4 separate regions of the Homo sapiens genome follow, and all the other regions are linked to region 1. Evidence: fine-mapped expression QTL. A gene starts in region 1. Each other region holds a variant in brackets. All regions are shown on one strand. Distances are between the middles of the regions. Region 1 holds the start of VAMP3 (vesicle associated membrane protein 3). Region 2 overlaps PER3 (period circadian regulator 3). Region 3 overlaps CAMTA1 (calmodulin binding transcription activator 1). Region 4 holds the start of SLC45A1 (solute carrier family 45 member 1).

Region 1 (6,799 bases):
ATAGGAAGTAGGTTTAAAGCCTACCAGTGTAACCTACCAGTACAACTGTGAATCCTAGGCGAGGCAAAAATGCACTTCCACTGAAACGAAGCATTTCTGACCGCTTTTTCTTGGTTATGAATCTTAATTTCGAATATAAGATGATAGGTAAGCGCAGCTTTCTTGGATAATCTGAATTCCCAAGTGCCAGGAGTAGGATTTCATTATAAAATTAATAGCTAATCTTATTCTATCTCCTGAAGATTTAATTGCTATTGTTACCCATTCGAAATCAGCTGTACTGTGTGAACGAAATAAAGACAATAATACGAACCCCTCTCTGGCTGCACGGTCGCTTATGGCAGTTCCACACAGTAGTTGGCGCCCAATGGGGGGTCCCTGAGACTTGCATGTAAAACTAGTCTAGATGTCTTCTTTTTTTGTAAGTTTTATTTTTGTAATTGTGCATGTAAAGCATCATTGAATCAATGGATCTGTTGAAGAACTCAGCTGCTGGAAACCATGCAAAATGTTTTGAATTGCCCTTAAAATATGGAAAATGTTTTCTGAATGCTTTATATTCTTTCTGCTGTAAATTAAAAATGAAGAAAATTTCCCCATACTACGTGTGTGTTTTGCTTTAATATGACCGGGTAGTGAAATCTAAGGTGATGGGCACATGTTTCAAAACATATGTAATAATGTCAAGGATTTCCTTCTGATCCAGATGTAATGTTTTGACATTGAATGTTACATTGTTTCAGCTAGGTCCATGAAAGAAAAAATGTCTTCCAGCCACCATTCAGAGAGCTTTTCCCCTATCTTTCCAGGCACCTCTCAACATGTCAATCATTTGTGTAAGGCAGTGCAATTATTTGAAAGATAAAGACATTAATTTAATTCACCTTTTCAGTTACAATCCTCTAAAGTCTTCTAAAAGGCATTTTCCAGCAGATTACGAACGTCGTCCTTTCTGAGTATTGTGTCATCGCCGCTCCCTTCCCGTTCACTGCAGAGCCTCTCCTTATCTCCCTAGTGCTCCCTCTTCCATCTAATCCATCTGGCCACTACTGCCAGAGAAATTTTGCATCATGGATCTCCCACGTCCGTAAGTCAATGGTTTCCAGGGCCCACTACAATTAAATGACATTTTTCTTGTTTGTTTATCCTCTTTATTCAGTCTTCTTTTCACTTGTACCCAACCTGCACCCTCTAGGTGGTCTGTGCACACTGCGTCCATTTTCACTGCTGTCTTTGTTCATGGTGTTTGCCCAACCCTTACTTGGAAAGTTCTTTTCCACTAGTACCCAGCTCAAATCCCACCGCCTTTGTGACACTCGTTTATTCGATATATACTAACGTTTCCCTTTTCAAAGTATTCTATTTAGAGTTGGAAAAAACAGCATAGTATTTAAGTACTGTATTTTTCACTTCTCATCTAAGAGACCCACCAATGACCTATTAGTGTTTTATTTTTTGGTGTAGGTAACTATGTTGGTAGGAATATTTCAGTAACAAATATATACAAGGTAACTCACTGCGTTCAGATTTGTGCTTCCCTCCCTTCGACCAAAACCTGAGGACCTATTCTGTGCTAGGGCCTGAAAATACAGAAATAAAGGAACTACAGCCTTGATGCCAAGGCTCTCGTAAGCAGATTATAATATGATCTGCAGTGACAAATATTTGTGTCACCGATGAAAACATGAGCGGGAACCTCACCCAACACCATGTGACAAATACCCGAAATGGACTTCCTATTTCAACTACTTTAGAGAAACATGGTGCCCTCAGGATCACTAGGTTACTCTGGAACACTCAGCAGAAGCCAGTCATCTGTCTCTAATACTGTTAGAAATGGTCCCGAGCCCAGAATAACATGAATTGCCCCCACCCTCACTTATCCACGCAGTCCCTCGCCAGTGGCTAATGCACCACGTTTACAGACCACGTCCCCAAGCGCCAGCGCGGACGGCGGTGCGGACAGGGAGCTGTATTGACCTGCGTTCTGCGTTTCAGAGCCCGGACCGCCCTGGGACCCCTGTGGCCCTCAAGTTCCCAAGTGACCTCGTCCGGGGAGGGGACGTCTCGCTCTGACCCCGCCCTGGACGCACCCACCCACGACGCCCCCGCCCACTTCCGGCGCGCCCCCTCTTCGCCCCGCCCACTCCCCCGGCTCCGCCTAGTGACGTCTTTGCCCCGCGCCGCGCCGTCCCACCCATCTCCCTGGCCTCCGGTCCCAACTTCGCTTCTCTGCTGACCCTCTCTCGTCGCCGCTGCCGCCGCCGCAGCTGCCAAAATGTGAGTGACGCTACGCGACGCGGGCGGCTTCGGGCCCCGCAGGCGGCAGCTCGCGCTGGGACCGCCATACTGCCCAGTTGCCGCCGGCCGCCACTCGGACGCAGGCCGGGGCTGCGCGGGGATCCCGAGGCCTGGGGGTGGGCGGTGGCCCTTGGGTCGCGGGCTGCAGACGGGCCGGGCGGGTCCCGCGGCCATCGGGCGGACGCGGAAGGGGCAAGGGCGGGGCGGCGAGACGCTTCCCGGAGGAAGTGAGCTGCCCGCCCGCAGCCCGCTCCTCGCCCCTTCCCTTTCTAGTCCCCGACGTCCCTGAGAGGAATGGGGACGACAGCCCTGGTTCGGGAGCGCCCGCTCTCGGCCCGGTGCTGCGCTGGGCCCCAGAAGTTGCGAAAGAAAGGACCTCGGCCCTGTCCTGAGCCCCTGTGGGCCGAAGAGCTCCTTGCCTAGCTAGGGGCATCTGCACTGGAAAGATCACTTAACCGTGGGCCTTCGCTCTCTTAAGCGAAAGCACGTTGCAAACCCCTGCTTCCAGTGGTAAGACTCAGAGAATGCTAATGGTTAAGAATCACAAGGACTCCCTCTTCCACCTCCATTCTGCTCATTGCTCACCGTCGGAGGAAGCCCCGGGTTTCTTCCAGGAGCTGGGGACCCCCCTCGAATGTTCCTGCTGAGGCTGCTGTGCCAATAGATCACAGTGGTTAAGATCTAGAGCCAAGGTACACAGGACCTGATCTAAAAACAAGCTGTCCTGCAGCCAGCTGTGTTGACTCTCTAAACCTCACTTTACTCATTTGTAAAATAGGAGTAATATTCCCCTCAGAGAGTTATGAGGGTTAAAGGAGGAAAAGCATGGAAAGAGTCTAGCGCCACGGCATGGTCCTTACTTATCTACCAGATACTAAACTCCGTGAGGACGGTGATGAGATCTGTTGTAGCCCTGGTCATTGACACATGACAGATGTAAAGTGACTGTTCAAACAGCCCATCAGACTGTTGTATACCAAGGCACATGCTAGGTGCTATCTAGGATACAGAGAAGAGAGTAAGAAGACCCAGGAACCTGTGATCTATTCGAGGAGGCGGGACTTTATACCTGAAAAACCAAAGTGATACTTTCCAAGTAATGGAGCCAATAATGACTTCAGAGTCAGAGTGGTTAAGAAAGATCTGCATGGGGAGAAATAAAGCCTTTGATGAAGATTTTAAAAGATGAGTACCTTCCTGGGCCGGGCGCGGTGGCTCATGCCTGTAATCCCAGCACTTTGGGAGGCCGAGGTGGACGGATCACTTGAGGTCAGGAGTTCGAGACCAGCTTGACCAACATGGTGAAACCCCGTCTCTACTAAAAAATACAAAATTAGCCGGGCGTGGTGGCACATGCCTGTAATCCCAGCTGCTTGGGAGACTGAGGCAAGAGAATTGCTTGGACCCAGGAAGCGGAGGTTACAGTGAGCCGAGATCGCGCCATTGCACTCCAGCCCGGGCAACAGGAGCGAAACTCCGTCTCTCAAAAGAGGGGGAAAAAGAAAGAGTACCTTCCTAAAAGAGGAGGCATTTCTTCAACACACCTTTCCACTCACACCACCCACTCCCTGCATCCCAGTGTTCCTGACTCTGTTTCTGTAAATTAATCTATTTTTCCATATTGGAAAAAGGGCATTCTGTAACTGTTTGTAACTATGAAAACAGTTCCTTCCACAATGAAAAGATCAGGAAAGTACTGAGTACATTCAAGCAGATGTGTGCCTTAGAACAAGTTTCAAAAAAGGACAGTAGAGCTTACCTATCGTGGGATCAGATACTTCAGGGATACAAAGTAGGTCCTATTAAAGCTTAACATTTGTCCCTTTAGTAGGTGGGACAGTCTTGGAAATTATAGAGAAATTAGAAGAAATGCAATTAAAACTTTCGTTCATTGCTTCAGGAAGAATTTCTTTTTCTGTTTTAGTTCTAATGTAAGAGATTGTTAACAGTGAGAGTCCCGGAGTAACATCTTTATACTTAAGAAAATGTATTTGGAATCGTAATGTACTCATGCTCATGCCTTTACATGTTCCAGGTCTACAGGTCCAACTGCTGCCACTGGCAGTAATCGAAGACTTCAGCAGACACAAAATCAAGTAGATGAGGTATTGCTCTGAAATGTTGGAAATATGAATTTTAAACAAATATGAGTACTCTGGAAATCTGTTTAGAAAAAGTATCATCAAAGTGTGAATGTAAAGCAAATTCTGACTGTATCATAATTGTAACGAAACTTTGCTCCCTGCTGTGCTGGAAGATCTAATCTAAGCAAAAGTCAGACTTTCTAGGTTTCACGCTTGTTTTCCTGTGATAGAAACCTGCTCATAACATTTAGCTCAGGAGAAATAAAAAATCATATGCCTAAAACATGAACATCACTCCCTGAGTGCATTCCCCAAGAAGCACTTTATAAAATCGGATAATACAATGTTAAGGATTAGGTCTTTAGATTGCTCAAGCCAAGACCAGTTCTTCTGATCAGATTTTTTTATCAAAATGCTTTGTCTTCTTACTAATTGTCCAGCCTGAGCAAGCCTCTCTGTAGAATTCATCTCTAATGGTTGTCCATTGACACACACAAAGTAGATACTGTCAAACTCCATTAGCTCAGCAAATCTCTGTTTGTAGAATTCTTGAGCTAGAGGACCTCCATCTTTTGTTCTGCGCCGTATGTGGAGAACCACAGCAGAAGATTGAGAAATTCAGACTAGTGTTTCCACATTCCTAAAAGCCGTCACTGTCCGACAAATATATTTCGGTCTTTCTGCATTTAGCTGCCCTGAAAAAACAGTTAAAGTTATGTCAGATACTGTTGTTAAATAATATAGTAATGTTTTGATCTGATGGTTTTGTTCATGAACTTATACAATTTTAGATTTTCACAGTAAGAAACCCATTGTAATTCTGTCCTGCCTGGAAATTCTGTTTACTTACAAAATCAAATTGGATTTTTTTTTTTAGCCAAAGGAATTTTAAGGAGAGTTGTTTTTTTATTGAGGCAAAATTACCATAACATACAACTAAACATTTTAAACTGTATATAATTGAGTGTTATTTAGTATATTGATAATATTTTGCAACCATTACCTCTTTCCATTTTCAGAACTTTTTCATCACCCCAGAACACCTCATGCCCATTTAGTAATCATTCACTATTTCCCCTTCCTCCCATTCTCTGGTTACCTCTAATCAGCTCTCTCTTTCTGTGGATTTGCCTGTTCTGGGTATGTCATATAAAAGGAATCATACAATGTGTGGCCTTTTGCATCTGCCTTCTTTCACTTAGCACAAAGTTTTTTGCATTCATTCAAGTTGTAACGTGTTGTACCGTGTTCCTTTTTACGGTTGAGTAATATTCCATTGTATGTGTATACACAATTTGTTGAGCCATCCATTTGTTAATGAGTCTTCGAGTTGTTTCCACCTTTCAGCAATTATGAATAATGCTGTTATAAATATTCACAGGAAAGATTTTGTTTAGACATAGGCTTTCATTTCTCTTGAATGTATACCTAGGAGTAGCATTGCTAGGTCATAGTAGCTGTATGTTTAATTTTACGAGGAACTGCCAAATTGTTTTCCACAATAGCTGCACCATTTTATTTTCCCACCAGCAATGTCCAAGAGTTCCTGTTTCTCCACATCCTTGCCAACACTTGTTTTCCATTTTGATTATAACCATCCTACTGAGCTCTTTGGGTTTTCATTTGCGTTTCTCTAATGATTAGTGATGTTAAGCATCTTTTCATGTGCTTATTGGCCATTTGTATGTCTTTGAAGAAATGTCTGTTCAGGCTTTGCCCATTTTTTAATTGGGTTGTTTGAGTTGTGAGAGTTTTTTATGTATTCTGGATATTAAATCTTTCTTTATCAGACATGTGATTTGCAAATACTTTCTCCCATTCTGTGGCTTGTCTTTTACATTTTTTTTATTTTTTTTATTTTTATTTATTTTTTTTGAGACGGAGTTTTGCTCTGTTGCCGAGGCTGGAGTGCAGTGGTGCAATCTCAGCTCACTGCAGCCTCCAAGCCCCAGGTTCAAGTGATTCTCCTGCCTCAGCCCCCAGAGTAGCTGGGATTACAGGCGCCCGCCACCTTGCCCGGCTAATTTTTTGTATTTTTAGTAGAGACAGTGGTTCACCATTTTGGTCAGGCTGGTCTCAAACTCCTGATCTCAGGTGATCCACCTGCCTGGGCCTCCCAAAGTGCTGGGAATATAGGCATGAGCCACCGCACCTGGCCTGATAATGTTCTTTGATGCACAAAAGTTTTTAATTTTTATGAAGTCCAATGTATCTGTTTTTCCTTTTGTTGTTCTTGATTTTGGTATATAAGAATCCACAGTCAAATCCAAAGTAATGAAGATTTACCCTTATGTTTTCTTCTAAGAGTTTTATGGCTTTAGCTCTTACACTTAGATTATTGATCCATTTTGAGTTACTTTTTGTATATAGGGTGAGGTGGGGATTCAACTTCATTCTTTTGCATGTTGGCTCTT
Region 2 (8,327 bases), 60 kb after region 1:
AGAAAGTGAATATCTTACTAAAGTTAAGGTGGTTGCGTTGGGACTCAGTGCTGACATTCTCAGTAGGTAATCCGCGTGGCTACTGTGAGTGAGCCTGTTAGCCTAATTCTGTGTAAACATGAAACACATCTGCCTGGCTCTGTTTGGAAAGTAGACATGAAAGAATCATCTATGTTCTAGTTTCTTATATACTTTGTGAGGTTTTTTCCAAAGTGCTATCTTTTAAGTTTTCATGTGAACTGGATTCCCTCTACTCTTTAAAATTCGTTACAGGTATTACGCTTAAGTGTTCATTGCCTATAACACGTATTTGTTTACTTACAACCGGGGTTATGGTCAGGTGAGATAGGAATAAGCCATATTGACAATTTAACGATTGTACTTCTTCATGCACAGTCACAGGACAACAGGTGTGTATGAAGAGGTAGGAGCTATTTTATTTGTTATCAGTAGAGTAGGCAGTTTATAGTTTCACACTTAAACATGTCATTTTTTTCAAAACCAAAAGCTTTTTTGGTCTGCTTCCTTTAACTTTTCATCCCTTTACCTAAAAAGCCATTCTCAGGTTTATTTAGCAGGTTAAACTTTGGAATCTGACGTTCCTATATTTAGGTATAGAATCCAAGGCAAGTGTGAATATTTACACAGATTTTTCTTTGACCTTCTCTTTAAGGTACAATACCCTTCTTTAACAGATATTCAAAATCTAGTGATACAAATCAAGAAAATATGCTCACTTTTGAAAGCCTGGTGTGCTTGCTGAAAATCTAAGGGAAGGCAGTATATTACAGTGAGTAAAGCCTGGGCTATGGATTAAGACACGGATTCAAATCCCAGCTCGGTCACTAGTTAGGAAGATTCACTTAGACAAGTTATTTAACCTTTCTTTGCCTGTGTTTCCTTATTAGGAAAATGGAAAGATGAATCCCTCATAGCTTACTCTGAGGGCTAAATGATGTATTTATATAGTACTTCTCCCTATGCAGTAGGTGCTCCTGGAGAGCTGGAACTTTGTTTTGTTCATTATTATATTCCTAGTGTTTGACACAGTGCCTAGAACATATAAATGTTCGATATGTGTTTGCTGAGTGACAAAAAAAAACTACTTGTGGGGTGCCTGGCATGTAGCAGGTACTGAGAAAGTAGTAGTGCCTTAATATTACTTACAAAGGAACTTATTTCTTAGAGATAGGCTGGAACGTTTTTACTTCTTAGTTATATATGTAAATTTTATTCTGTTTAACACACGAAGTTGAAGATCTGCCAGTTACAGTAGTCTCCCTTACCCAGGGGATATGTTTCAAACCCATGGTGGATGCCGGAAACCGTGGGTAGTTCTGAACCGTATATACAGTATGTTTTTTCCTAAACATACTATACATATCTATGGTAAAGTTTAATTGATAAATTAAGAACAGTAAGAGATTAACAGCAGTAACTAATAACATAGAACAATGATAACAATATACTCATCACAATTTCATGGATAGAAGATTCGTTTTTGCCTAAAATTGTAGCACTCTCAGCATATGGGTTTTTCCTTTCCTTCTTGAGAACTTCCACCTTTTCACTTAAATGCAGCACTTTATGACTTCTCTTTGGCATATCCCAATTGCTGGCATCACTCCTCTTGCACTTTGGGGCCATTATTAAGTAAAATAAATGTTACTTGAACACAAGCACTATGATACCACAGTAGATCTGATAACCAAGACGGCTACTGAGTGTGGAGGTGTGAAATAAAGGGATGATTCCTATCACAGGCTGGAAGCAATAAGACAGCTCAAAATTTTATGACACTACCAGAATGGCTGACAATTTTAAACTTATGAACTGTTTATTTCTGGAATTTTCCATTTACTATTTTTGGACCTTGGTTGACCACAGGTAACTGAAACTACAGAAAGCAAAACCATGAATAAAGGAGGACTACTGTATTTTGTGATAAGAAGATTAAAGTGTCTTTTCATGTGCCCTTACTTTCTAGCAGTGTGTTACAGGCAACAATGGCAGTGAGAGCAGTCCTGCTACTACCGGTGCACTGTCCACGGGGTCACCTCCCAGGGAGAATCCATCCCATCCTACTGCCAGCGCTCTGTCCACAGGATCGCCTCCCATGAAGAATCCATCCCATCCTACTGCCAGCGCTCTGTCCACAGGATCGCCTCCCATGAAGAATCCATCCCATCCTACTGCCAGCACACTGTCCATGGGATTGCCTCCCAGCAGGACTCCATCCCATCCTACTGCCACTGTTCTGTCCACGGGGTCACCTCCCAGCGAATCCCCATCCAGAACTGGTTCAGCAGCATCAGGTAGTGGATCAGGACAACTAATGTTTCAAACTCCAATGCCAGACATTCACTATGTGCTGAGCTCTCACTGTGTGCCCCAGGCACTGATGTGGAAGTACAAGGTTTTTTTTTCTTTTTCCCTTTTTCCTTTTTGTCAGGTATATTGGGGTATATTTATACACAATAAAATTCACCAGTTTGAGGGGTACAAACAAGAATTCTGACAGATGTGTACCTTAGTGTAAGCGCTACCACAATCACCATATAGAACATTTCTGTCACCCCAAACAGTTCTGTGACCCTCACCAGTCCATCTCTGCCCTGACCCTTGGTCTCCTGGCAGCCACTGGTTTGCTTTCTGTCACTTTAGTTTTGCTTTTCCTATGATTTATGTATAGAATCAGACAGTATGCTGTCTTTCGTATTCGGATTCTTTCAGTTAGCATGATGCTGTTGAGATGCACGCTCAATAGCATTTATAGCTTAGATCTGTGATCCATTTTGAGTTTTGTGTATGGTATGAGGAAGGGTCAATATACTTTCTTTACATTGGGATATCTAACTGTTCCTGCCGTTTGTTCAAAGGATTAATCTTTCCCCCGTTAAATTGCCGTGATGCCTTTGTTGAAAATAACTTGACCATACACGTGTGGGTGTATTTCTGGACTCTCTTTTCTGTTCCACTGATCTGTATGGCTAGCTTTAGGCCAATACCACACTCTTAAGTAATGTAACTTTCAAGTAAGTCTTGAAGCGTGGTGAAGTAAGTCCTTCAACTTAATTCTTCTTTTCAAAATGATTTTGAATATTCTAGGTCCTTTGTCCATATAAATTATAGACTCCATTTCTCAGTTTCTACAAAAAAGTCTCGTGGTGTTTGGAATGAAATTGTGTTGAATCTATAGATGATCAATACGTGAATAATTATCTTCCTGATGATATTGAGTGTTTTGATCCACAAGTACGATTTTTCTATGTAGGTCTTTAATTCTTCTCAGCAGGGTTTTATAGTTTTCAGCCTACAACCCTTACATATATTTTGCTAAATTTATCTCTAAGGATTTTATAATTGTTGATGCTACTGAAAATGGCATTTTAAATTTTCAATTTGCAATTGTTTGTTGTTAGCATATAGAAATTTAATCAAATTGTGTATTTTTAACTTGTATTTTGCAGTCTTGCTAAACTCATTGATTAGTTTTAGTAGCTCTTTTTAGATTCTGCAGGACTTTTCTACATAGTCTTTATTATCTGCAAATATAATTTTACTTCTTTTTTTCCGTCTGTATGTCTTTATTTATTTGTCTTGCCTCATTGAACTGGCTAGGACCCACAGTGAAGTGTTTAATAGAAATAGGAAAATAGACACTTGCCTGGTTCACAGTCTTAAGGGGAAAGCAGTCAGTGTTTCACCATTAAGTACGATGTTAAGTATAAGTTTTCCTTGAATGCCCTTATCAGATTGAGGAAGTTCACTTCTATTGCTGCTCCACTGAGTTGCCCTTTCTGCGTCTGTTGAGATAATCATGTGGTTTTCCTCCCTTATTCTATTAATATGGTGAATTACATCAGTTTTCTGATAATAAATTAACCTTGCATTTGGTCATGCTCTTTTATCCTTTTTTATATGTTGTTGGATTATCTTCCTAATATTTTGTTACGCATTATTGCATCTCTGTGCAGAATATTGGTCCATTTACTTTCTTTACTTGTAATGTCTTTGTCTGGTTTTGGTATCAGAGTAATTCTGGCCTCAAAAAATGAGCTAGGAACTATTCTTTGCTATTCTGTTTTCTGGAAGAGTTTGTGTTGAACTGATATTATTTTTTCTTTGTAAGTTTGGTAGACTTTACCAGTGAATCTTTCTGGGCCTGGAGTTTTCTTGGTGAGGAGGATTTTAACAACAAA[T/A]TTAAATATTTTAATATATATGGGTCTAATCAGGTTATCAGTTTCTTAGTGATCTTTGGTAATTTGTATCTTTCAAGAAATGTATCTATTTTATCTAATTTGTTGAATATATTGGCATAAAGTTTTTAATATTCCCTTTTCCTTTTAATGTCTGTAGGTTTTATAGTAATGTACCCCTCTTATTGCTGGTATTAATATTTTTCCTGATCAATCTGACTGTATGTTTATCAATTTTAATAACTTTTCAAAGAACTTTGGATCTCATTGGGGTTTTTTTTCCTATTGTTTTTTGGTTTTTTATTTTATTGATTTATGCTCTTTTTTTTTTTTTTTTTTTTTCCCTGGGACAGAGTCTGGCACTGTCACCTGGGCTGGAGTGCAGTGGCACGATATTGGCTTACTGCAACCTCCACCTCCCAGGATCAAGCGATTCTCCTGCCTTAGCCTCCCGAGTAGCTGGGATTACGGGTGCCCGCCACCACACCCAGTTGATTTTTTGTATTTTTAGTAGAGACGGGGTTTCACCATGTTGGCCAGGCTGGTCTTGAACTCCTGATCTCATGATTCGCCCGCCTTGGCCTTCCAAATTGCTGGGATTACAAGCATCATCCACCGTGTCCAGCCTATGCTCTAATTTTTATTACTTCTTTTCTCTTTACTTTGGATTTTATTTTTTTTTTCTTATTTCTTAAGGTAGAAGCTTACTTGTTAGATCTTTGAATTGAGATTTTTCCCCCCCAATATAAACATTTAATGCTATTGAATGCTCTAACCATTGCATCCCTCAAATTTTTTTTTTTTTTTTTTGGAACCAAGGTCTCACTCTGTTGCCCAGGCTGGAGTGCAGTGGCATGATCCCAGCTCACTGCACCCTCAAACTTCTGGGTTCAACAATCCTCTGGCCTCAGCTTCCTGAGTAGCTGGAACTGCAGGCATATGCCAGTGTACCTGGCCAGTCTAAAATATTTCTAATTTCACTTGTATTTTCTTCTTTGATCTTTTGGTTGTTTTAGAAAGGCTTAATTTCCTAATATTTGGAGATTTTTTTTAGATATTTTTATTTTATTTCTAATTTAAATGCAGTCAGAGAACATTCTTTTGTATTTTTTAAATTTACCAAGACATTGTGTAATGATCTGGAATTTGGTCCATCATGATAAATGTTTCATGTGCATTTGAAAAGAATATGCTTTCTGCTGTTGTTGAGTCATGTGTTCTGTAAATGTAAATTAGATCAAGTTGGTTGATAATGTTGATCCAACCTTTTCTAACTGATTTTCTATCTGTTTTATAAGTTATTATGATATGGTTTATATGTCCAGCTATAAATGTGAATTTCTCTATTTTTTCTTATAGTGCAGTGAGTTTTTGCTTCATGTATTTTGAAGCTCTTTTATTAGGTGCATATACACTTGAGATTATTATATCCTCTTGATGAATTGCTCTCTTTATCCTGAAATATGTCTTGCTTTGAAGTCTGCTTTGTCTGATATCAGTGTATCCAGTCCAGCTTTATTTGGTTAGTGTTTACATGGTAAATTTTTTTCATCTTTTTACTTTCAACTTATCTGTGTCTTTATATTTAAAGTAAGTTTCTCGTAACCACCATATAGTTGGGTATTGCTTTTTATTCATGTGACAGTCTCAGCCTTTTAACTGCAATGCTTGCTTAGATTATTTACATTTAATGTGAATATTGATATGGTTAGGTTTAAGTTAAATCTTTCATCTTGCTACTAATTTTCTGTTTGTCTCATCTGCCCTTTCTTTTTTTCCTCCTACCCTCCTCCTTTCGGGTTAATTGTGTATTGGCTTCTAAGCATAACTTTTTTTTTGTTTTTGCTCTAGGATTAACTTTTTATTTATTTTTATTTTATCTTATTTTTTTCTTTGAGACTGAGTCTCACTCTGTCACCCAGGCTGGAGTGCAGTGGTGCCATCTTGGCTCACTGCACCCTCCACCTCCTAGGTTCAAGCAATTCTCCTGCCTCTACCTCCCAAGTAGCTGGTACTACAGGCGTGCACCACCACGCCTAATTTTTTGTATTTTTAGTATAGACGGAGTTTCACCATGTCAGCCAGACTGAACTCAAACTCCTGACCTCAGGCGATCCGCCCGCCTTGGCCTCCCAAAGTGCTGGCATTACAGGTGTGAGCCACCACGCCCAGCCTGCTCTAGGTTGTACAATGCACATCTTTTACTTATCACAGTTTACCTTCAAATATTATGCCTATTGTATCACTTTATATATTAGAACCTTAAGACGGAGTACTTCCATGTCCCCTTTGTCTTTTGTGCTATTTTTGTCATACATTTTAACGTGTAAAAAAACCCACAATAACATTGTTATTATTTTTGCTTTAAACAGTAACAACCTCTTAAAGTTGTTTTGTGTGAGTGTTTTGTTGTTGTTGTTGTTGTTTTGACACAAGGTGTCACTCTGTTACCCAGGCTAGAGTGCACTGATGCAATCATAGCTCACTGTAGCCTCAAACTCCTGGGCTCAAGCAATCCTCCAACCTTAGCCTCCTGAGTAGCTAGGACTACAGGCATGTACCACCACACTCAGCTAATTTTTTATTTTTATGGAGATGGAACCTACCTCACTGTGTTGCCCAGGCTGGTTTCAAACTCCTGGCCTCAAGCAGTCCTCTCATCTTGGCCTCCCAAAGTGCCAGGATTACAGGTGTGAGCCACCACGCCCAACCTAAAGATATTTTTTAATGAGGAAAATTTTTTTATTACTTTTTTATTTACATACTTAGTTTTTTAAAAAAAATTAAACAAATAGTTTTGTTTTGTGTTTTTAATTCCTTCAAAGTCAGTGAGAAGGTTCTAGAAGGGTCAAATGCAAGATAGGAAAGGAATGATCCATAAGGCTTCATATCAGCCATAAAGGGATGGTCCTTGGGATGAACAGTTTCTGTGTTGTGGCAGGAGGAAGGTGAGGAGGGGGTACATATATCATTAATTGTGTATGTTTGGTATCATAAAGGTGATTAATTTGCTTTCTGATGGCTTCTTTTTTCCTTAAAAAATAGGTGAGATTGAGGCAGGAAATAGAGAGGTTGAAAATAGTCATTGCTGGGGGTAGGTTAGTGCATGACCAGAGAACTGTAGCAGGATTCCCAGGTATTTTGATGGTGCATTTGAGGTTGGTGATGATGCGTTTATTGTAGAAACACTGTACCCTGTTATATGTGACTTTCTGTATGTATTTGGCGACTTGGGTTTAGGTAAGAACAAAGTCAATAATTGGCTTTATTGGAGTTGGCATTTTGACAGTTATGAAAAGTCAGAGGGAAAAAGAAGTCTAAGGTATTGCAAGGTGTGTTACTGAATGATGAACTGAGGACTCCACTACAGGAAGACTAAGACGTTATTAACACATTTATAGTTGAAATAATTGAACAAGCCCATGAGAGAGTGAAGCTGAGATGTTGATGATTTTGGAGATGGAGCGGTTATGGGTGATGATAAAGGACAATGTGTGTAGCCTTGAGAGTGATAGCTCATTAGGAATGGAAAAAGAGATCTCAGGAAGACCAAAGAACCAGGAGGCTGTCCACAGGGAGGAGGAAGTTTCCCGGAAATGATGGTTGGGCTGGCTGAGGAGGAGGACTGTCCGAGGCAAGAGTCTGAAGAATGAGAGCCAGTTTGGCAAATCAGTCGGACAGGTCTTTTCTAATTATGTGTTGTTGATTTTTGACAGGAAGCAGCGACAGCAGTATATACCTTACTAGTAGTGTTTATTCTTCTAAAATCTCCCAAAATGGGCAGCAATCTCAGGACGTACAGAAAAAAGAAACATTTCCTAATGTCGCCGAAGAGCCCATCTGGAGAATGATACGGCAGACACCTGAGCGCATTCTCATGACATACCAGGTACCTGAGAGGTAAGAAAGCACTTTAGAAAACCCACTTTTTATATTTTTGTGGTTTCTTTTTTTCTTTTTTTTCTTTTTTGAGACGGAGTCTCGCCCTGTCACCCAGGCTGGAGTGCAGTGGCACGATCTCAGCACACTGCAACCTCCATCTCCTGGGTTCAAGCGATTCTTCTGCCTCAGCCTCCCGAGTAGCTGGAATTATAGATGTGCACCACCATGCGTGTCTAATTTTTGTAT
Region 3 (8,327 bases), 100 kb before region 1:
ATTCCACACAGGTCATAGGACGCAGGATTCCAACGTGCACCCTCCCCCAGCCCCCAGGCCGCCTCAGCTCCCGGGGATCTGACTTTGAGAACCACTACTCCAAAGACCAAAGCATCTTGCCTGAGGGACACAAGCAGTAGAGGAATCTCTGCTTTTTCTGTAGAGCAGAATAGCACAGGAAGGGGACAGAGTGGCCCAGGCTTTCCCTAAATAACCTAGTGCAGACAAGCACGTGCATCCTGACCTCTACCCAGCCCATCTGGGTGCTCAGGGACCAGCACATGCACCACGGGCCCTGATTGGACACTGCCTGGGAGGTGGCTGCCCACGGCCCACTCGGCTGGAGAACACCAAAGAAGGGGGCTCATACTTCCTCACCCTTCTTCCCCGCTGGCAAAGCTAAGAAAATCTGTGTACAGACACCCCCAGCTCTCCCATCCCCGATAGGAAGAGCCCGGAAGGATCAGACTGGGCTTCCTCTTGGTATAGGTTGGTGTGACCGTGTTTCTGACCCCCCTGCTGTTGTTGTTTTGTTTTGTTTTGTTTTGTTTTGTTTTTGAGAAGGAATTTCACTCTTTTTGCCCAGGCTGGAGTGCAATGGCGCCATCTCGGCTCACTGAAACCTCCGCCTCCCAGGTTCAAGCGATTCTCCTGCCTCAGCCTGCCGAGTAGCTGGGGTTACAGACACACCCTGCTGCATCCAGCTAATTTTTGTATTTTTAGTAGAGACGGGGTTTCACCATGTTTCCCAGGCTGGTCTTGACCTCCTGGCCTCCAGTGATCCGCCCACCTCAGCCTCCCAAAGTGCTGGGATTTCGGGCATGAGCCACCACACCCGGCCCTGACCTCCTAATCTTATCAGTGACTCTGAGCTCAATGGCACCTTCGGAGTGCCCACCACACCCCCCACCCCACCCCATGAAGGCCAGTTGGGCATCTTCCCCGTGCCCCCTGACCCTGGGCTTAAGAAAGCGATGCAAAGGGACAGGGAGGAGGCCAGGATCAGGGTGCGGGGGGACGGTCAGAGCTGTCTTCTGGTCCTGGCTCCTTGAGACCTGACTCTCTGGGGCTCAGTTTCCTTACGTGTAAATGGCTGAGAGGGGGTGGCCTCGAGGCACTCCCAGTCCTAGGACCTGGGAGATTTGGTCCTCGGGACACTTAGAGGCGCCCTGGAGCCCTTAATGTCTTGCAGAAGCCAGGAGGTGGGAGGAGGGTCCCCTCTTTTCCCGAGGTCCTGGCCTGTCAGACAGGCCCTGGGCTGGGTGCAGACCCACACCCCAGCCTCCTGGGTGTCCTGGCGAGTGGGACATTAGCAGGCCTGACTCCTTCTGTCCTTTCTGGGCCTGCAGTTCAGCAGCTCGCCACACGAGGGCGGCCCAGGAACAGGAACGCAATGGCAGCCTGGCAGCCTGGCAGCCCAGCAGAGGGAGCGGCCAGCCTTGCTTTTCCAGAAGCCCTCAATGCTTCCAGTTACCCACAACCAAAAGCTGCTGAAATTCAGCTTGATTTGGAAAATGCGCATAAGCCACCCAGCTAGGCCCTTTGGGGCCCCACCTGGCCACACAGTGAGGCCTCAGAGGTTGTGAAGGGCCCCTTCCTCCTTGCTGTCCTCTCCTACCCAGGCCACTGTCTCCACACCACAGCAGGGGTGCCCCCATCCTGGGTTCTACAGGAGAGAGCACCTTCTCTCTTGACACTTCTCTCCCTTTGTCTGGCCCTCGTCCTGTCCCCTCCCTGCCAGCCTGTCTGTGCACTGACTGCATCAGGAGTCCAATCTGGCCAGGTTCTGCCAAGCTCAGGGAGGGCTCTACAGGCAGGCTCGTCGGCCTGGGCCCTACTTCCCAGTCTGCAAAATGGGGTTTGGCTAAACGGTTACTCAGCACCCCCACCCAGCTCTAAACCTCAATGCATCTACCTAGCAGGAATGCGATGGCCGGGGCCATCCTGCTGTCTCTTCTCTGAGTGGCCCTCCCTCCCACAGGCTGCTCCCATTTCTCCTATCTCTGTCCACCCCTTCACCTCCAGCTGCAGCTGGTCACCAACACACACACACACACACACACACACACACACACACACACACACCCACCACACACCCCAGAGGCGTCCCCCTATGCCCCAGCATCTGCCCTGGCTGCATCAGACATGGGCCCTTTATCTCAGGACTCAGAGACCTCAGATGGCATTTCGTGCCCCCTCCCCACCCCCAAAACCCTCCTGCGTCATCTCCCACCACTGACACTCCTGCTGCAGCAGCAGAAGAGCCTGCAATTACAGCCTCAGGCACGCGCGTCACCACCAGTTCAGCGCAGCCAGGCGGGCTGTTGCCATGGGAACCATCCCTTGAATGGATGGATGCTGAGCTGTCCTGCGGCGGTTTCCATGGAGAAGGTCCTGATGTTCTCCAGTAATTTCTGCAGTTCTTTGTTCCCGGCAGCAGCCCCAGCCTCATGCTAGCAGCTGTTGATTGCGGTTATTATTTTTTCCCTTTTTCTCACATGGTAACTGTCTGTGGCCTTTTGAAGTCACTGCTCTTCCACTTCCCAGGATCCTGGGGGATGGTGCCCTGAGCTGGCCTTCTGGTGCTTCCAGACATCCCAAAGTCAGGCTCCACCTGTCCGCCGGCACTCTTCTCAGCCAGGCACCCACTCCCCCCAATGCCCCGCCACTTCCACGGAGCTGCAAATATCCCTGGGCATCAGAACAAGGGATGCTGTGGTCAGAAGGGCCCCTAGCAAGGAGATGCCACCCAGAGAGGCTGGGCCACTTGCCTGAGGACACACAGCTACTGAGGCGCAGGAGCAGGCCTCCTGCTTTTGTTTCTCGGTCCTGAGCTCTCTCTGCTGCCGTAGCAGTAAAGTGACCTCCCAGGCCAGAGCCAGGCTCATGCAAGAGCAGGGGTGGAATATGCTTTCCAGCCTGGGAGAGCCCCTTCCGTGGAAGAAGTCTCTTTTCCTGGCTGGGCAATGGGAGGAGCTACTTCCACCTCATCCCTGGAAACACTCACTCCTGCTGCAGATGCCCTGGGCCAGGCCTGGGTTCCAGGAACATTGTGGGGCGCCTAGGGCAGGCTCCTTGTAGAGGCCGGGGCTTCCTCCAGGGCAGGGGTGGGCCAGGGCCCAGGAGAGGCCAAGCAAGAATGAGTGACTGACCAGTAGGGAGCATCTGGTTGGCACGGAGTTGGGGGGTAGGGAATCACTTCTCTGGCCTGGAGCAGTGGGGAAGGTGGGCTCACAGCAGCTCCTCACCCCCACCTCCCAGGCTCCAGCCTGCCTGGCGGCCTTCTCCAGCCTGGACACTAGGTGGTGCTCTCCGCCCTGACCTAGCAGCTCTCCGCCCCACTGCAGGGAAAGGTGTTTACTGGTTTGGGGGTGGGGTGGATGGCGCCTCTGGGGTGGGTCCACCCAAGGTTAGCCAGGAGAGTCCGGGAGGCCGGCACCCCTACCTTCCTCATCCCCAGGGAGAGCCTCCCTCTACTCAGTGACCAGCCCCTCTCCTCGGCTAAGCCGTAAGTAGGGGACCTCCAAGGTGCCGTCCACCTCGCACCTCCCTCTCTCATCACTAAGCAGGACAATGGCCATGAAGCAGGACTGCCCGGGCCCCGGACATGAGGCCACCCTCCTCCTCCACTTTCTGCAGCAGCCCCAGGCTGGTCGGAACGGGGAGTCAGGGAGTACCCCAGCCCTTCCGATGCTCTCCTGCCCCTGGGCGCCCTGGGAGGTTCCTGAGGGTGGGGTCCTCCCCCCTGGAGCTGAGGAAGGTCATTCGAGGCTGCTCCCAGCCAGGCTGCATGGTCACTGCTTGCTTGTGGGACCCCAGGCTAGCTGTGTAGGCAGTGACACAGACTCAAGGACCTTTGATAGCACAGGGTTGGGGGAGGGGGCAGATGCTCAGCCCCGTTCCACTCCCAGCCCCAAGCTCTGAGCCCCAAACTCAGCTCCCAGGGCAGTCTCTGAGCGTCTCCTTCACTTAGCTCCTTTAGCTCCTCT[G/A]TTTCTTCATCGGGCTCTTCAGCCCGTCCTGCTCCAGCCCCTCACCTTGCCATCCCCACAGCCTGGGGATCCTGGGTCTCTCCTCAACTCCCTACAAGAACTTCTGGTCCCTGGGCTGACACGGAGATGCTCAGGCCTGTTTTCAAAACTTGGAGTTCCCTCAGTCTGTCCACAAGTGAATGACGGAGCAAGTCCCCTCCCTGCCCTCGGCTTCCTTCCAGGCCATTTCTCAGGGGCATCGTAGGCTGAAAGGGTTTGCAAAACTCTGCACTCCCTCCTGCCTGGATCTGCGAGTTACACAAAAGGGAGAAGGTCAGGGGTTGGAGCTGCCGGTCCTGGGGCTTCCTGAGGGGCTGGGGAAGGAGCGCCTTGGGCTCTCCTCTTGCTGTAGTCCTGGAGCTGTGGTTCTCAGAAGTCGGGGCTCACTGCAATCCCTGGAGTGAGGGCCTGGGAATCTGCATGGGGCGAGGGGTACAGACCCCCATCTGAGCAGTGAAGCCTCAGGGGGGCTTCCCCATGCTGCCTCCCACAGTGGCTCACACTCCAACTCTGTTCCCCTCTCTGTTCTCTGCAGGGAGGAGTGAAGGTCCTCATCACAGGCCCGTGGCAAGAAGCCAGCAATAACTACAGCTGCCTGTTTGACCAGATCTCAGTGCCTGCATCCCTGATTCAGCCTGGGGTGCTGCGCTGCTACTGCCCAGGTGAGAAAGCCGCCCCCCAGGCCCCCAAGGTGAGTGTGATGGCCTGAGGAGCACTGGACTCGGAGTTGGCCTTGGGGTGACCTTGAGCAGGTCATGTCCTTACTCTAGGCCTCAGTTTCCTCGGCTGTGAAGAAGCGGATCCCCGATAGTCTATTAGAACGTCACCTCCTTTGGCTCAGGGACCTAATATAGGACAGGGACACAGGCACGCTTGACTGGGATTTTGAAGCGAATGTGATGAGAGCACGATTTAGGGCAGGAATAAGCCAGGCCCAGGCGATGTATCCAGGACTGGCCACAGTGGGAAGCGGCCACCACCCTCAGCCCAAAGGGTGACTAGAGCTGGTAAGAGCTGGGGCCAGAGACCACCTCTGCAGCAAGGCGGCCTCTCTGCACCTGCCCGTGCCTCCCATGGCCCAAGCCAACCAGAAGCCAGGAGAGCCCAGGCAATGCAGCCCACACACAGGCTCCATCCTCCCGAGGGCCCTGGGCAGGGGGCAGAAGGCTGGAGAAAGCCTGGCAGGGGCGGAGGGAGATGGGGTGGTGATGGGAGGTCAATCTAACAATAATCAGCACAAATGCCTTTGAGAATGTAAAACAGAGCCATCTACCCTGTGCCCAGAAAAGGTGCATATAATTTGCTTCCAATTTCAGGGGCTCAAAAATCCCCCAAGAAACCCTTGGGACAGCCTCTGTGCTGTCCCTGTGCCTCTGAAGCCCTTCCCCAGGCTCCAGCATTATCTGCTTAGCACGGTGTCCCTGTCTGGTCAACTTGTCATTGATCTCTGGCCATCACTGCTTCCCCACTCGCCTGTCCCATGGGGTCAGGGACTATCTTCTTGATCACCATAGTATCCCCGGGGCTGGCAGAGTGCCGGACATGTCACAGAGGGGGATGGAGATTGTGACGGAATGAATGAGTCTCCAGGCATCTGAAGCCTGTTTCTAGAGCTCATGTCTTCTGCTCCTGGGCTGTTGCTGGCAGGACTCCCTTGGCTGCCCCATCTCATCACCACCAGCCCTCAGGATGGCCTGTCCAGTGAGCCCTGACCATAAACAGGAGGGGGGTAAGGATGCAGGGGTGCGGAACGGCAGGGAGACCCACCCCTGTCCTCTAACGTCAGGGAGCCTAGAAAGGAGAGAAGATGCTCAGTGTAGAAGACTGGGGGTGAGGAGGAAAGGTACGGGGTGGGAGTACAGAGCTGGCCAGTGCTAGGCAGGCCCCAGGGTGTTTCTAGGTTCCACCCAAGGTGGTCCAGCCTGAGCCTTGGCTGCCCCAGCTGTCTGCCACCACCACCCCACCCTTGAACCATGCCCCCAGGCTGGGCCAGCTGAGTCCCACCACCCATTTCTCCTTTTCTCCTTCTCTCTCAGGCTCTTCTTTTTGTTGGTTTTTTTGTTTTGAGATGGAGTCTCACTCTTTTGCCAGGCTGGAGTGCAGTGATGCAATCTCGGCTCACTGCAACCTCTGTTTCCTGGGTTCAAGTGATTCTCTTGCCTCAGCCTCCCTGGTACCTGGGACTATAGGCTTGTGCCACCACACCCAGCTAATTTTTGTACTTTTAGTAGAGATGGAGTTTCACCATGTTGGCCAGGCTGGTCTCGAACTCCTGACGCAAGTGATCCGCCCACCTTGGCCTCCCAAAGTGCTGGGATTACAGGGGTGAGCCACTGTGCCCCATCTCTCTCAGGCTCTTCTTGCAGCCACCAGAGCAGAAAACCCCTGCTCCACAGCTGGCTGCACACTCCGCCTCTGCTTGAACCCAGCACCATCTTCCCCAAAAAGTTCCCAGGAGCCAGTGCAGCAGCCCAAGGTGCCCACCCCACCCCCTGCTGGCCCAGCCCTCCCCTCCCAGCCCCCACCTGCCTGGCTCCAGAAGGCCCACCTAGCTGCCCTGCTCGGCCTGGAGCACAGCCAGCCGGGGTGGCAGCCAGGCCGGGTCTGCCTATCACAGCTCAGGGCTGTGTGCAGCTGATGGGACCCCGGCCCGGCGGGAGTGGCGGGGAGGGCACTGTGGAATTAAACAGTGCACCCATCATCTGCTGCCAGAATGCGACTTGCCTGGCCTATAAATAGATGCCACTTCCTGTACCTGGTTCTCGCCTGGCTAAGGACCAGGGCAGGGCTGCTTAGGTCTGCTCTCAGTTATCTGACCCCTCTACAGAAAAAGAAAGGCTGGGCTTTGTGTGGCCCCGGGGCTGGAGTCAGCCACACTCGGGTCCATCCCAGATCAGCCAGAAACCATCCCTGTTGCTGGAGCTCAGTGCCTGACCTCTCTGGGCCTCAGTTTCTACAGCTCTGAAAACTGCCTGCCAGCAGGGCGAGAGCAGTGAGTGAGAGGAGGTGTGTGAAGCACCTGGCCCAGTGCTCCATTCCTGAAGGGTTCCCATTAAGGAGGCCTTCGCTCTTCCTTTCCCAAGGGGGAGTTCGGAGAGGGTACCAGGGCAGTTTGGGTCTCAACAGGCAGTTCTCCTGGTCCTGGGGCATTTCTGGGTCCCCAGAGATGGCAGGTAGAGTCTCTGCCCAGGCCACTCACCCTCCTAGCTGTTCAGGCTCATTATATGAGCCATAATGTGTCTCGGACCAAGGGACCAGGAGCCACAAGGCTCAAGGCACACTGAGAGCTGGGACTCCCCTGCTAGAGCCAGCACTCTGTCTTCAGCTAACTCCACAAAGGGGGCCTCCTTTGGACATCTCTGCTTTGAGGCCCAAATTGGAACACATTGCTCTGTAAAACAGCACTGGATGTATTAATTCATTCATTCATTTCTTCATTTGCCAAATAACTTTTGAGTAGCCCCTGCTTGCTCTGCACAGAGTAGGGGCCTGGAATGGAGCAAACAATAAGACCCAGCTTCTCACCGGGCCCCTGATCGTAAGGGGCTCTCGGTCCAGGGAGGAGTGCAGTGCGCAAATGAATCACTGCTCCGGAGATGACGCTGGCTGCTTGGGGACCTCATCTTTGGGTCTCCCCAGAGGAATCTGAGGCTGAGCTCGAAGGATGAACACTTGGAAGTCAGAATCAAACTGGCCTCACCAAAAAGAGAGGCTCAGAGGCTTATGAGCACAAGCCAGGAACGACACGGGAGGAGGGGGCACTGGCAACACAGTTGGCCAATGCCCACCCGTCTCCCAACACACCTGCCCAAGCAAAACAGATGAGCAGGGTCCTGCCCTGGCAGCTCCCACACCGTCACAGGTGGCAGGAGACACGCAGGCACTGAGTGTGTCTTCTGCAAGACTCCAGGGTGCTTCAGGGGCAGGAGGGAGCCCACCAAGTTAGGGCAGTGAGCTGAGGGCAGTGAGCAGCAGTGAGTGAGAGGAGGTGCTGGGGAAAAGAGGCGACTCAGGCTTGGGAGAAGATAGGGGAATCCACCAAGAAGACTCTACTGGCCAGAGAGCCCTACTCTGGATTCCTAAGAGGTCACCAGAACACAAAAGATGAAATTCAAAATGAAAGCCAGGCACAGTGGCTCATGCCTGTAATCCTAGCATGTTGGGAGGCCGAGGCGGGCGGATCACTTGAAGTCAGGAGTTCGAGACCAGCCTGACCGACATGGTGAAACCCCGTCTCTACTAAAAATACAAAAATTAGCTGGGCGTGGTGGCAGGCACCTGTAAGCTAGTAGGGAGGCT
Region 4 (8,327 bases), 550 kb after region 1:
CCTGGTAGGGCTCCTTGAGGAGCCCTCGACCCTCCCAATGGGGTGGAATCCGCCGCGGTAAACTTCCACAGGGCCCCGTGCCCCCACTCTGCAGCGCTTCCCTGGGGTTATTATTCCACTACCAGCTGCATAATTATTTCATCCGTAATTATTGGACTCAGCCCAGCTCACTTCTGCCCCTGGCCTTTGCACTTGCTCTTCCCAGTGCCTGGCGTGACCTTCCCCACACGTCAGTCTGGCTGGCCCCCCTAGCTCCTCAGGTCCTTCTTTTCTTTTTGAGATGGAGTCTCACTCTGTGGCCCAGGCTGGAGTGCAGTGGCACGATCTCAGCTCACTGCAACCCCTGCCTCCCAGGTTCAAGCGATTCTCCTGCCTCAGCTGAGTAGCTGAGATTACAGGCACCCAGCACCACGTGTGGCTAATTTTTATATTTTTAGTAGAGATGGGGGTTTTGCCATGTTGGCCAGGCTGGTCTCGAACTCCAGACCTCAGGTGATCTGCCCCTCTCGGCCTCCCAGAGCGCAGGGATTACAGGTGTGAGCCACCGTGCCCGGCCTGCTCCGCAAATCCTCCTTCTAGTGTCACCTTCCAGGTGAGGACTCGCCAACAACCTGATAGAAACCTGCAAGGCCAGCGCCTCTGCAGCCCCACACTCCCTAACCCCTTCTCTAGGGCATTGCCATCTTCTGACATACCATTTATTTTATGTCTTGTTTAATGTGTGTGTGTCTCTCTCTTAAATGTCATGCAGCCGGGTGCGGTGGCTCACACCTGTACTTTGGGAGGCCGAGGCAGAAGGATCACTTGAGCCCAGGAGTCGAGACCAGCCTGGGCAACATAGCAAGGCCCTGCCTCTCTGTATTTTAAAAAATGAAGTAAATAATAAATACATAAAGTATTTATGTATTTACTTACATTACAAAGTTCCCCCAGGGGCGGGAACTTTGCCTTGTTCTTGCGGCATCCCCAGTGCCTTGGACAGCTCCGGGCCCAGAGTCGCGACGCCTCCAGCAGGCCCGGCTGCCCCACTGCGCACATGGGCACAGGCTTGGCACACGCACTGCGGCATTCACGTATCCGCGAACACATGGGTATCTATTTATACATGAAGACACGAAAATGTATTTATTTCTTTTAAAATCAGAAGAAAACGGTGAGAACTGTGAGGCCGGGGGGACGTTTTCCTCCGGGATCCTGGCAGATCCTGCAGACCGCGCCGTCGTGCGCGAAGCACCGGGACGGGCCTCCCGCGGGAAGGGCCCAGGAGGACACCGGGCTCCCCTCCCGCCCGCGGGGCCCCAGACGCGGCGCCGCTTTAAGGCTCCGGGCCCCGCGCGGATGCGGAGGCTGCGGCCGTGACGTCAGCGCCCCGCCCCGGGTGATGCTGCAGCAGCCGGGACCGCGGCCGGGCAGGCAGCAGCCCAGCGGGGACAGGGATGCCTGCCGTCTCCACCCACAGGTACCACCGTCTCCTCCGCGCCCTCCGCCCGCTCTCTGGCTCCGTGCCTGCCGGGGCGCCGCGCCCTGGGCCCCGGGGTAGTCAGGGCGCCGAGACCGGGACCCGAGGCCGGCACGGAGACCTTTGTTCCTCGTGGAAGTCTCATGAATTGCAGAGTCCACGGAGCTCCCCCGTCTCGCCCCTCCGAGGGCAGGAGCCTCGGGCCCAGGGGAGGGTGCCGGCCAGATGGCAGGTGCTCTCATCCTTGCTGGCAAGGGGAGGAGACCCCGGCCTTGGCCCCAGCTCCTGATGCGCTCCTTGAGCCGGAGGCCTGGTCCCTAGTCACCTGGGCAGGTGTCATCCGCTCCCGGCTCACCTCTTGCGTGGGGCTGAGCCCTCTTGTTGACCAGGGGCCTGGCAACGCCCCTCAGCATCCCAGGGTTACTTAGCGAGGGCACCGAGGACTCCCCTTTCCCGAGCGAGTCAGCACCAAGGGGAACGCGCTGAGGTGGAAGCCGTTCAGCTCCTTCTGCCCTCGACAATCAGCAACTTCTCTAATTATTTCTAGAGTGACAGCCGTGCATGTTTTTCAGCTCTTACAGGGAAGCAGAGTCAGGGGCGGAGGAAAGCCACGTTCAGGCTGCACCTGGCCTGGGCTTTTGGGAAAAGTTGGCCCTGGAGTAGGGGTCAAGCTGCCGGAGATGCAAAGTGGGAAACGGCCACGATTCAGTAACTAGCCTATTAAGTGCACCCTCCCAAGTCCGTAGAGCACCTTCCTGGTCCTGGAGGACCTCACTGAAGAATTTTGAGAATGGGTAGAAAGAAGCATGAGGGGTCGGGCGCGGTGGCTCATGCCTGTAATCCCAGCACTTTGGGAGGCTGAGTCGGGTGGATCACCTGAGGTCAGGAGTTCAAGACCAGCCTGGCCAACATGGTGAAACCCCATCTCTACTAAAAATACAAAATTAGCCGGGCGTGGTGGCACATGCCTGTAATCCCAGCTACTTGGGAAGCTGAGGCAGGAGAATCGCTTGAACCCAGGAGGCGGAGGTTGCAGTGAACCCAGATCATGCCACTGCACTCTAGTCTGGGCGATAGAGTGAGACTCCGTCTCAAATAAACAAATAAGCAAATACGCCCTAGGAAGGGAGGTGGCCCAAGGCAACCCCGTGGGGGGAGCTCATTTTCATAACGAGAAGAAAGAAATGAGGAAATGGTTTCCGCTCGTAGTAGGATCATTGTAAGCATTCAAACTACATTGACATTGATTACTTTTATTAATCATTTGCCGCTTAAACTTCCCACAACACAGTTTGAGGAATCTGTTACTTTAAGCATCCTCTGTACTCTGGAAGCACAGTGGACCCCTTGCATAGCCTTCGGGGGATCCAGGGAGATGAGTGGATTTCCTTTTGACCGAGTAAATGGTCATATGGTACAGTAAAGATGGTCTGGCGAATGTTTGTATTTGTGCATGAAAATTAGATTTTATGATCTTAAATTCCACTTTCACCCATTTTTATGGGAACCTTAAAAATGGATTTTTGTTGTTGTTGTTGTTGTTTTTTGAGACAAGAGTCTCACTCTGTTGCCCAGGCTGGAGTGCAGTGGTGCGATCTCAGCTCGCTACAACCTCCACCTCCTGGGTTCAAGCGATTCTCCTGCCTCAGCCTCCGGAGTAGCTGGGATTACAGGCACTCGCCACCATGCCCAGCTAATTTTTTGTATTTTTAGTAGAGACGGGGTTTCTCCATGTTGGCCAGGCTGGTCTCGAACTCCTGAGCTCAGGTGATCCACCCACCTCGGCCTCCCAAAGTGCTGGCATTACAGGCGTCAGCCACTGTGCCCGGTCTCAAAAATGAGTTTCTAAAATTCTTCTTATGATAAACATTTGTGAACAGTTTTTACTAAATGTAGTTTTAATAAAAATGGTAATGCTGATCCCCAGATTTGAAGATGAATCCTTAGTAAAGACTTCTTCTGAGCCAGGATTAAGCTAGGTTTAATTCTGGTTCAGATGCTAGAGAGAAGTTCATTGAGTGTGTGAGGATCTCCCTTCTGCTAGGACAGGCTGCAGTGGGGTGTGGCGGAGGTGGCAGTAGAGTTGTCCTCTTGCAGGTAGAGAAGTGGGCCGTCTACATAGTCCACTTTAAATAAGGTCAAAGAGGCTCCTCTTTTCAAAAAGACACTTCAGGGGCTGGGAATGGTGGCTCATGCCTGTAATTCCAACACTTTGGGAAGCCAAGGCAGGTGGATCACTTGAGCCCAGGAGTTTGAGGCCAGCCTGGGCAACATGGCGAAACCCCATCTCTACAAAAAAATACAAGAATTAGCCTGGTGTGGTGGTGTGCACCTGTAGTTCCAGCTATTTGGGAGGCTGAGGTGAGAGGATCACCTGAGCCCAGGGAGGTTGAGGCTGCACTGAGCGATGATGACTGCACTCCAGCCTGGGCTAGATAGAGGGAGACTCTGTCTGTCTGTCTGTCTGTCTGTCTCTCTCTCTCTCTCTCTGTTTCTCTCTCTCTCTACACACACACACACACACACACACACACACACACACACACACCTGCCATATGCTGTTTAAAGCTGAAGTTTTTCCAAACTGGGCCACAGTTCTTCATTCCAAATTTAAAGGGAAGGTTTCTAATGCACTTAAGTTCACATTATGGTTAAAATGCTGATTAGAAAGAGTGGGAGATATGCCTGTGTGCCTGCAGGTGGGGAGAGGCTGGGCAGAGGGACAGAAAGGGAGATGGCCACTGAGAGCATACGTGGGGCTGTGACCTTTGGGCGGAGTCCGATCCAACCGTCCACCTCACCTGTGCTGGGTCTCGCCTCTGACTCTGAAGGAGATGGTCTTACACAGTGTTGGAACTGGCGCTCTATTTCTGTGCTTTTGATGAATGAAGCTCCAGGGGATGCTAACTGCTGCTTGGGGTTTTGAAAGGAAGACCTGCCAATCACCAGGTTTTACCATGCAGAAGTGCTTGAGCTAGGCCAGTGAGGAACATAAATAAGCTTAGCTTCTTAAACATGTTAATCTTGATTTACTCCTTATAAATGAATTCTATTTCAAATGAAGTATTACTTGTCTACATGGTTCTTAGGTTCATCTGTTCTCTTCCTACAGGAAAGCGTGGTATTTTCCAAAGCCACAGGATAAGTCTTTTATAGAAGTGACAGGAGACTCTGTCTCTGCTATATCACTCCCTGTCACCTTGGAATAAAACCCATCTCTTAGCAAGGCTTCAAGGCCCTCCATGATTAGCTAAGACCTTCCTGAGGGCTTCATCTCTCACCCCACCCCCACTGTGCCCAACTGTTACTCATATCTGTCTTTTACCCAATGATTCTACCCCCCAGGAAGGCCCTTTCCTCCACCTTTTTACCTAACTCAAGGACAAGAACTGTGTCTTTTATCTCTCTTATCTCAGTGTCTTGGTACTCAGTACTCAGATGAATTGGAGGCTGGGTAGGTGAGTGGGTGGATGAGTAAATGTTTGGAAGGGGGGATAGGTAGATGGGTGAGTGGAAGGATGGATAGAGGAGTGGGTGGAAGAACGGGT[C/A]GGTGGATGTGTGGATAGTTTTTGGATAGACAGATGAATAGATGAATGGAAGAGAGGATGTGTGGAAGGATGGATGGGTAGATGACTGAGTGGAAAGATGGATGAATGGATGTGTGGGTGAGTGGATGGAAGAGTGGCTGGTGGATGAATGGGTGCATGGATGGGTGGGTGGATGGATGGATGGATGGGTGGGTGGGTGGATGGATACGTGGATGGGTGGGCAAGTGGATGGGTGGATGAGTGGATGGGTGGGTGGATGGATGGATGGATGGATGGATGGATGGATGGATGGATGGGTGAGTGGGTGGGTGGGTGGATGGATGGATGGGTGGGTGGGTGGATTGATAGGTACATGGATGGATGGGTGGGTGGGTGAATTGGTGACTGAGTGGGTGGATGGATGGGTGGGTGCGTGGGTCCATAGTTACATGGATGGATGGGTGGGTGGATGGATGGATGGATGAGTGGGTGGATGGATGGGTGGATGGATGGATGGGTGGGTGGGTGGATGGATGGATGAGATGGATGGATGGATGGATGGATGGATGGATGGATGGATGGATGGATGGATGGATGGATGGATGGATGGATGGATGGATGGATGGATGCATGGATGGATGGATGGGTGGGTGGGTGGATTGATGGATGAGTGGGTGAGTGGATGGATGCATGGATAGTTGGGTGGGTAGATGGATGGATGAATGAGTCATTGGATTAACACAGTGTTCTTTATCCTGCTGGGATGTCTCTAGATCCAATCATTTTCACCATTGGTGTCTTCCAAAGAGAAGAAAGACAATCTCTGAGTGGGTGGGGTGGTGGAAGAGTTTTGGATACAAATCTGGAGTGAGGAATTTCAGAGTGATTCATAAATAATTTATTGTCTAGTGATAGTGTGATGGAAAGTGGTATGGTAAGTTAATGTCAGGAAAAAAGTGGCTTACTTTTGAAGCTTAAAACTAATTTTGAGAGAAAGCCCGTGATATTTATCTTGGTCAATGACAAGCGCCATCATCAGAAATCAATGTTGGGAAAGTTGTCCCAGTTTGGGGCCTACGTCTCAGGAAGGACTTCAAAGGGAATTTAGTCTGTTGCTTTTTTGTGGAGCAGGTGGGCTGTGTCTGAGAGAATCCTGGAACCCCCCACCCCCTCTGTTATGTTGGTATCTGTCTCTTTCCCTCTGATCTGAGCAGCTTTTCTCTCCTTGTGCTTATACAAGTGGACATCGGCTAAAACACACAAGCTAACATATTAGAATCCATTCTGTTAATATTAATAATCCAGATTAATTTCAAAGCAGTGAAAAACAGTTCGACACTTTGGAACCGGTGCCTAAGTGGTGCAGATTGCAAACCCCAGCTGGGCAGAGGACAGCGCGGGAGGGGAGTGGAAGGATGTCTATCTGGGAAGGCCTTGAACTTGCTCTCTCCTTACCTAGGTCATGGGCATTGTGAAAATGTTTAAAAAGTAAGTTGAGGCTGGGCACGGTGGCTCACGCCTGTAATCCCAGCACTTTGGGAGGCCGAGGTGGGCAGATCACGAGGTCAGGAGATAGAGACCATCCTGGCCAACATGATGAAACCCCGTCTCTACTAAAAATACAAAAATTAGCTGGGCGTGGTGGGGGGTGCCTGTAATCCCAGCTACTTGGGAGGCTGAGGCAGGAGCGTGGCTTGAACCTGGGAGGTGGAGGTTGCAATGAGCCAAGATCAAGCCACTGCACTCCAGCCTGGGCGACAGAGCAAGACTCTGTCTCAAAAAAAAAAAAAAAAAAAAAGTAAGTTGAAGCTGGGGGGTGGGGATCTGTTTCTCAGCTCTCCCTGGTTCTGTCCCTCTGCATTCGCATGTTGTCTGTGACTACGGGATTCCAGAGTTCGGCTTATTAAAGAAAGCATTTTCGAACACTGTCAAAGCCTCAGTTCTCCCCACTGGACTAAAACTCACTTGTCAATGGGTGCTGAAGGAAAAGGGTTTGTGTTAAGCCCATTCAGCTGCCTTTAGGGAGAGTGCCCTGGCCTACCGCGAAGGAGGGAACACAAGCGTTAGGGAGTGGAGAGGACTGGCTCTGACTCTATCTGGTGACAGAGGAGCTGTCCCCGCAACGCGAGGAAGCACTCAGGGTGCCGGGGGGGTGGTTCCTAACCATGCCCAGTCTCTCTTCCTCTCTGGTCCCCTGGGACCTTCAGGGAAGGGCAAAATTAGCCCTGGAAATGGGCCGCAGGTCCTAAAATAGCCTGGTGTCCTTGGAGGCCGGAGAGGAGCTGAGAGGCTCTCACTTCCTCAGGACAGTCCTGACCGAGCCTCTGTTTGGGGGATGGTCCCTTTGAGTTTGAGGTGGGGACCTGCAGGACGGGGGTCCTCTCTCTGAGTAGGGAAGGCACTGGGCTTTGGCCTCCTGGGGCAGAGGAGCTGCAGATGGGAAAGTGAGGCCCCGGAGCATCAACCATGAGCAGTGCATTCTGCTTTCGGGGGATGGTGTTTGACTCTAAATTCTGCAGTGTGAACTCAAATGTTGGGGGAGGACTACCCAGGCAAAAGTAACTGTGGCCTCCCCACGGGCTTTCCTCACAGGGACGCCCACCAGCCCTCCCCACGATGATCCCCGCAGCCAGCAGCACCCCGCCGGGAGATGCCCTCTTCCCCAGCGTGGCCCCACAGGACTTCTGGAGGTCCCAGGTCACGGGCTACTCGGGGTCCGTGACACGACACCTCAGTCACCGGGCCAACAACTTCAAACGACACCCCAAGAGGAGGAAGTGCATTCGTCCCTCCCCACCCCCGCCCCCCAACACCCCGTGCCCGCTTGAGCTGGTGGACTTCGGGGACCTGCACCCCCAGAGGTCCTTCCGGGAGCTGCTTTTCAACGGCTGCATTCTCTTTGGCATCGAGTTCAGCTACGCCATGGAGACGGCGTACGTGACCCCGGTGCTCCTGCAGATGGGCCTGCCCGACCAGCTCTACAGCCTGGTGTGGTTCATCAGCCCCATCCTCGGTGAGCCCCGGCTCCTCCCCGATGGTGGAGGGCCTCTGGAAGCCTCCAGAAGCCTCATCGCAGTAGCCTGAGGGTCCTGAGGGGAGAAGGGAGGATCAAGAGTTAAGTTCCCTTCATCAGTCTGGGACTGTGGGGAACACAGGTACCACCGGTCATATCCCAGATTTTAAGTTCCTTATCGAAAGCAGACAATAGAACAGGGATTTAGCAGCTCCCCGAGGGCTGACACCGTCTGATGCCAGGCTCTCCTTGTTGGAGGGTCCAACTCATAACGCTTGGTGTCATGTGAGCCTGGAAGGTCCTGAAATTTCTTGGATTCCCAAGGAAA

The links. PIP is the estimated chance that this variant, and not a neighbour inherited with it, causes the effect.
Region 2: its variant is fine-mapped to the expression of VAMP3 in whole blood (INTERVAL, PIP above 0.99).
Region 3: its variant is fine-mapped to the expression of VAMP3 in whole blood (TOPMed, PIP 0.97).
Region 4: its variant is fine-mapped to the expression of VAMP3 in pituitary (GTEx, PIP 0.99).

The regions. Positions count from the first base shown.
Region 1 is chr1:7,769,106-7,775,904 of GRCh38, forward strand. VAMP3 (vesicle associated membrane protein 3) reads left to right here and starts at 2,191. Exons shown (of 5, transcript NM_004781.4): 1 at 2,191-2,280; 2 at 4,337-4,406. The coding sequence starts at 2,279. It overlaps CAMTA1 (calmodulin binding transcription activator 1), which reads left to right. Exons shown (of 23, transcript NM_015215.4): 23 at 1-601. RefSeq lists enhancers at 1,395-2,091, 1,835-1,884 and silencers at 2,118-2,360, 2,325-2,554.
Region 2 is chr1:7,827,847-7,836,173 of GRCh38, forward strand. PER3 (period circadian regulator 3) reads left to right here. Exons shown (of 22, transcript NM_001377275.1): 19 at 1,988-2,315; 20 at 7,916-8,099. Among named protein-coding and RNA genes, the nearest start is that of UTS2, 21 kb to the right of the region's middle. The variant T/A (reference allele first, on the strand shown) is at 4,203.
Region 3 is chr1:7,666,348-7,674,674 of GRCh38, forward strand. It overlaps CAMTA1 (calmodulin binding transcription activator 1), which reads left to right. Exons shown (of 23, transcript NM_015215.4): 10 at 4,564-4,690. Among named protein-coding and RNA genes, the nearest start is that of VAMP3, 100 kb to the right of the region's middle. RefSeq lists enhancers at 1,474-1,663, 2,832-3,678. The variant G/A (reference allele first, on the strand shown) is at 3,990.
Region 4 is chr1:8,316,728-8,325,054 of GRCh38, forward strand. It overlaps SLC45A1 (solute carrier family 45 member 1), which reads left to right and starts at 1,387. Exons shown (of 9, transcript NM_001080397.3): 1 at 1,387-1,459; 2 at 7,579-7,999. The coding sequence starts at 7,603. RefSeq lists a silencer at 1,217-1,496. The variant C/A (reference allele first, on the strand shown) is at 5,008.